Regions from separate parts of the Homo sapiens genome. Here region 1 is linked to region 2. The links come from fine-mapping of genetic effects on gene expression. A gene starts in region 2. The other region holds a variant in brackets. All regions are shown on one strand. Distances are from middle to middle.

Region 1 (2,904 bases), 200 kb after region 2:
ACAAAGTGGGACTCTGTCTCTACAAAAAGCACAAAAATTAGCTAGGTGTGGTGGCGTGCACCTGTAGTCCCAGCTACTTGGGAGGCTGAGTCAGGAGGATTGCTTGAGCCCCAGAGGTCAAGACTACAGTAAGTTGTGACTGCACCACTGCACACCAGCCTGGGCAACAGAGTGAGACCAGTCTCAAAACAAAATAGAACAAAAAAAGTGTAGGCCGGACACGGTGGCTCATGCCTGTAATCCCAACACTTTGGGAGGCCAAAGCAGGCAGATCACGAGGTCAAGAGATCGAGACCATCCTGGCCAATATGGTGAAACCACGTCACTACTAAAAATACAAAAATTAGCTGGGCGTGGTGGCGCGCACCTATAGTCCCAGCTACTCGGGAGGCTGAGGCAGGAGAATTGCTTGAACCCAGGAAGCAGAGGTTGCAGTGAGCTAAGATTACGCCACTGCACTCCAGCCTGGCAACAGAGCAAGACTCCTTCTCAAAAAAAAAAAAAAAAAAAAAGTGTTAGGATGTAGAAAAATTGGAACTCTCATTTTCTGTTGGTGAAAATATAAAATAGTATAGGTACTCTGGAGAACACTGGCAGTTTCTCGAGAAGTTAAGCATGGAGATACCATATGACCCAATCATTCCACTATTACGTACATACCCAAGAAAAATAAAAACATAAGTTTATACAAAAAAAGTCCATTAATGGTCACAAAAGCATTATTCATAGTAGCCAAAAAATGAAAATAACCCAAATGTTCATCAACTGAAGAATGGATAAACAAAATGTGCTGTATCAACACAATGAAATATTATTCAGCCATAAAAATGAATTAAGTATGGATACATGCTACAACATGGATGAACTTTGAAAACATGCTAAAGAGTCTGATCACAAAGGACCTCATTTTGTATGATTCCATTTATATGAAATGTTCCAAAACAGATCAATCCATAGAGATAGAAAGTAGACTGATAGTCACCTAGGCCTGGGAAGACTGGGGGAGAAATAGGGAATGACTGCTAATGAGTATAGTGTTGCTTTCTGGGATGCTGAAATGTTCTAAAATTGTGGTGATGGATGCATTACTATGAATACACTAAAAACCACTGAATTATACACTTTAAATGGGTAAATTTTATAGTACATTAATTTTATCTCAAAACTTTAAAAACTAAGAGGAGGGCAGGCGCAGTGGCTCACGCCTATAATCCCAGCACTTTGGGAGGCCGAGGTGGGCAGATCGTGAGGTCAGGAGTTTGAGACCAGCCTAACTTACATGGCAAAACCCCGTCTCTACTAAAAATACAAAAATTAGCTGGATGTGGTGGCGTATGCCTGTAATCCCAGCTACTTGGGAGGCTGAGGCAGGAGAATCGCTTGAACCGGGAGGCAGACATTGCAGAGAGCCGAGATCGCACCATTGTATTCCAGCCTGGGCGACAGAGCGAGATTCCATCTCAAAAAAAAAAACTAAGAGGAAATACCTACAAATAAATGTTAGACGCTAATGTCACAAAACTAAGGTTCAAATGATGTACAATCTTACATCAACGATAAGAAACTGTATCGCTTCTCTAGGCTCAACAACTCCTTTGTAAATTCTCAGTAACTTTAAGGTTAGTGAGAACTCTAAGACAAACAATGAGCACCAAGTTGCACCTCAA[C/T]TCCTTAGCTTAGCATATAAGGGCCTCAATACTCTGGACCCAGCTTTCCTTCTTCCTGCTGCTGTATACTCAACTACTCCTTATTTCCTAAATATGCTCCCCGGGTTTTTTTATCTGAACCTTTGCATTTATAATTACGCTGCTTTAGCATCTTCTCTCTGCCTTCGTAGTCCATAAATTCACCAGCATCATTCTCCCTAATCTCCTCCTATTGAAATCATCCTCATTCTTAAAGTCGAGTATTTTCATGAAGCCTGCCTTGATGCCCTTGCTGTGTAAACACTGGCCTTCCTCTAAACCACCAAAGGATACTGTCATTCTCCTTTGGTGCACAGTAATCTAGCTCTCATCATCCTTGACAGATTGGTCAGCACACTCAGAGTCATCTCTCAAGGCAAAAGCTCTACCAACAATGCCTTGCAGATTAAGGAACCTCTTATTTCACCTTCAACTCCTAACTCCACATAAAAACCACATGCTCCTGGGGCCAGGCACGGTGGCTCACGCCTGTAATCCCAGCACTTTGGGAGGCCAAGGCAGGCAGATCACGAGGTCAGGAGATCGAGACCATCCTGGCTAACACGGTGAAACCCCGTCTCTACTAACAATACAAAAAAAAAATTAGCTGGGCGTGGTGGCAGGTGCCTGTAGTCCCAGCTACTCTAGTGGCTGAGGCAGGGGAATGGTGTGAACCTAGGAGACGGTGCTTGCAGTGAGCCGAGATTGCGCCACTGCACTCCAGCCTGGACGACAGAGCGAGACTCCATCTAAAAAAATAAAAATAATAAAAATAAATTAATTAATTTAAAAAAAAAAAACTACATGCTCCTGACTCCTGTGCCGAGCTAATTAGATAGGGGGATCCAACAGACCTAAAGGTTCTATGAATTAACCATCAGCTTGTGAGGAAAGAGTGCTATGAGAGTTTAGTTAAATAGGAATGACAAACATTCTCTGACTTAAATGTAAAAATGTACTCTCTTATTCCCTCTCAACTGAATGGAAAGTGGGAGGAAAAGACTCACGGAGCTGGAATCAAGAATAGAAACTAAAACATTGCCAGAGAAGGGGCCATAAAATAGTAGAGCCACACAAGAGAAGAAACCATAAGACAAGGAAAAACACACAAAAGAAAAGGGTGAAGTCAGAAGTGGGATGGGACAAGAATAGTATAACAAGAGGGGAAAAAAAGAAGACATTATGATCCCCAACCAGGAAGAGAAGGACAAATTCTCAT
Region 2 (2,904 bases):
CTGGACACCTCTGCCTGCAGAGGTGGGAGAGGGGAGACCTGCTACGGGCCGATGAAGCCAAGGGTGACAGGGGCCACAAAGGAGGCTGGAGCAGTGCCTCAAGGCCTAATCCTGAACCCCAGGCCCATCCTCCATCTCATCAGAATCCTGAATCAACAAGAGGAGACATGATATCTCCATCATGACGCCTGCCAGCACTTACACAATGCTCTGCGCCGGCTCTGGGCCAAGGGCTTTGCATACATTAACTCATTTATCGCACAACCACCTTATGCACAGATACTATTTACGATGGCCCACTCCACAAGGAAACTGAGGCACAGAGAAGCAGTCACTTGCCTGAGGTCCACAATTGGGGTTGGAGCCCGGGCAGGCTGGCTCCAGATTTATGCCTCACACAGACCTGCTTCCACCTTCTCGGGCTAGTATCCTTTAGGCTCTCCACCCCACATCCCCAGCCCACACCCCAGCTAAGCAGCTTTCCGGCTGGTCTTGGGTGGCAGGGGACATAAGCTATCGAGGGAGGGGAAGTAGCACATCAGGGCCTTGGGCCCCAGGCTGAGCTGCTCTCGTACCCTCCCTCCACCCTGGTCAGAAGAGCATCCTGGAAATGGGCTCTCTCCTGGGCAGGGGAGGCGGCTCCTAGCTCAGACCCCTCACAGGCTGTCATGTCCTCCAGGTCCTGCCAGGTCAGGCTGAAGATGGTCCCCCGGTAGCTCCCTCCAAACCCATGCCCCTGGTTCTGGGAATGCAGCCTGGCAGGCGCACCGGGACCAGGGAAGCCTGTGCCAACTGCTTCCTTTCGGCCTTCCACCTGCCTCCACAAGGACCCTAACAGGTCAAGTCCAGGGAGCAACCAGGTCCAGGGCAGTGCTGGAGGGCCTCATCCACCAGGGTCAGCCCAGGGCCCTCACACTCCAGGCAACTGAGTCAGAGGAGCATGGAGGAGCCACTTGCTTCCAGGGCCTCAGGGCGGCAGCTGGGAGCCTCTGAGTCTCCAGGGCCCAAATCTGTGGTGCCAGGGAGCTCTGCCAGGAGCCCGTTCCCAGGACAGAAAACACTCAGGACGGATCCCTCATCCCCAAGCCTCCTCCTCCCCTGGCTTCTGCCCGCTACCCTGGTCTTGTGGTCAATAAACTCCCCTCCCTACCCCTGGAGAAGACCACAGCTCCCATAAGAAACATATTAACTAGGCCCCAGGTAGAGACCAGGGGTCCCAGTAGGGACCCAGGGCCCTGCCAGGCCTTACCACAGCCATGAGACTGAGTCCTCAGGAGCAGGAATGATGGGGCAGTGGCCACAGGATCAAGGACTGTCAGCTTTCTAACCCAGAGCCAGGGATGTGATGTCCCAATTGGTCCCAAGTCCCTCCTACCCGCCGCCTCTGCTCCACCTAAGCTCCACACCCACTCCTGAACCAGCCACCTGTCCAGGAAATGAGGCACCCTAAGCCTATACTAGAGCTCCTGATACCTCTGTGGCACTCGCCAGCCTTTACCAGCTGGGCCTGCCCCACCCAGCCCTGCAATCCCAGCCTGGAGAGCTTGCTGCCAGGGGCTGAGCAGAAGGAAAGCAGGGGTGAGTCCCAGAACAGCAGCCAAGGGAAGAGTGGAGTTCCCTGTCACAGGCCTTTCGCAACTCTGGCACCTGTTGGACAGGAATGCCCAGTCTTGATGGCAGGGATCCATCAATCTGAGATGAACACCCGGGCCCCCTCACGACAGGCAGGGGAGTGGCTGTCACATAAAACAGCCCTTCAAAGCTAGGTGCTGAGTGGCCAGGGATGAGGCCTGTGGGTTGGCACTCAGGGGCAGGGGGTTCTTCTGCCTCCAGGGCATGGTTTGTGGGGGGGTCAGCGTGTGGAGACCAACTCTTTCCTCAGAGGGACAGCCCCAGGAGAGGCGGGGGCTTCCGTCCCTTCCTGCCTGTGCCTGTTATGGGAGAAACAGGGGTTATCCCCAGGGCACCAGGTCCCACCTGCTGCCCCTGAACTGGGGGAGGACAGTAACCATAGGAGAGCTAGGAATAGCTCTCAAGGTCCTGGGCAAAGAGGTCCGGACCAGAGAGCTACAAGACTCAGGTCTGCTTGCTTGTCCCAGGGAGGGGCTGCGGTGACTCTCATGGACAGCGGGACTTGGGCAGCTGACGGCTCTTTGGGCCCAGGCTGGGATCCAGCCCTCACCCCCAGTGAAGGTCACCCTGAAGTTTTTACCTGAACCTTCAGGCCCTCCTTAGACCACAGAAGGCAACTTCAAGAGGGAGGATCAGAACATACGACTCATAAGCCAGGCGCAGCAGCTCACACCTGTAATCCCAGCACTTTTGGGAGGCCGAGGCAGGTGGATCACGAGGTCAGGAGATCAAGACCATACTGGCTAACACGGTGAAACCCCGTCTCTACTAAAAATACAAAAAAATTAGCCGGGCATGGTGGCACGCACCTGTAGTCCCAGCTACTTGGGAGGCTGAGGCAGAATAGTGTGAACCTGGGAGGCGGAGCTTGCAGTGAGCTGACATCACACCACTGCACTCCAGCCTGGGTGACAGAGCGAGACCCCATCTTAAAAAAAAAAAAAAAAGGACATACGACTCACAGCTACCTTTTATTCAACATGTCCTGTGTGCCAGCTCCATGCTGGTCCTCATAGACATCATCTCCAAGCCCACAACAGCCCCGCGAGGTACAGCCATTATTATCTCTTTACTGACAGGACACCAATGCCCGAGACGCAGTGACTCGCCCAACATCACAGCGCTGGGGAGAGGTGCCGCTGCACCTGATCCCCACTCTGCTCACCTGTGTGGCAACTTCCTGAGAACCCTCACCCAGACCTGCCTGGCACCTTGAGTCCTTATGACCACATTCCAAGATCCTCCAAAGCTGATCTCAAGCCATGCTGGACC

Which allele goes with the higher level. Alleles are on the strand shown, and positions count from the first base shown. SD is a standard deviation of normalised expression in the study named.
In carriers of allele C in region 1, the expression in subcutaneous fat of the gene that starts at base 1,325 in region 2 tends to be lower than with T alone (large effect, 1.1 SD a copy in FUSION).

What was found. PIP is the estimated chance that this variant, and not a neighbour inherited with it, causes the effect. A credible set is the group of variants that fine-mapping cannot tell apart.
Region 1: its variant is the best candidate, but not a certain one, in a credible set for the expression of PLA2G4B in subcutaneous fat (FUSION, PIP 0.59).

The regions. Positions count from the first base shown.
Region 1 is chr15:41,639,096-41,641,999 of GRCh38, reverse strand. It overlaps a transcript of MGA not described here. Among named protein-coding and RNA genes, the nearest start is that of MGA, 20 kb to the left of the region's middle. The variant C/T (reference allele first, on the strand shown) is at 1,668.
Region 2 is chr15:41,837,268-41,840,171 of GRCh38, reverse strand. PLA2G4B (phospholipase A2 group IVB) reads right to left here and starts at 1,325. Exons shown (of 20, transcript NM_001114633.2): 1 at 1,250-1,325; 2 at 1-14. The coding sequence starts at 1,258. It overlaps JMJD7-PLA2G4B (JMJD7-PLA2G4B readthrough), which reads right to left. Exons shown (of 25, transcript NM_005090.4): 7 at 1-14. It overlaps JMJD7 (jumonji domain containing 7), which reads right to left. Exons shown (of 8, transcript NM_001114632.2): 8 at 2,591-2,904.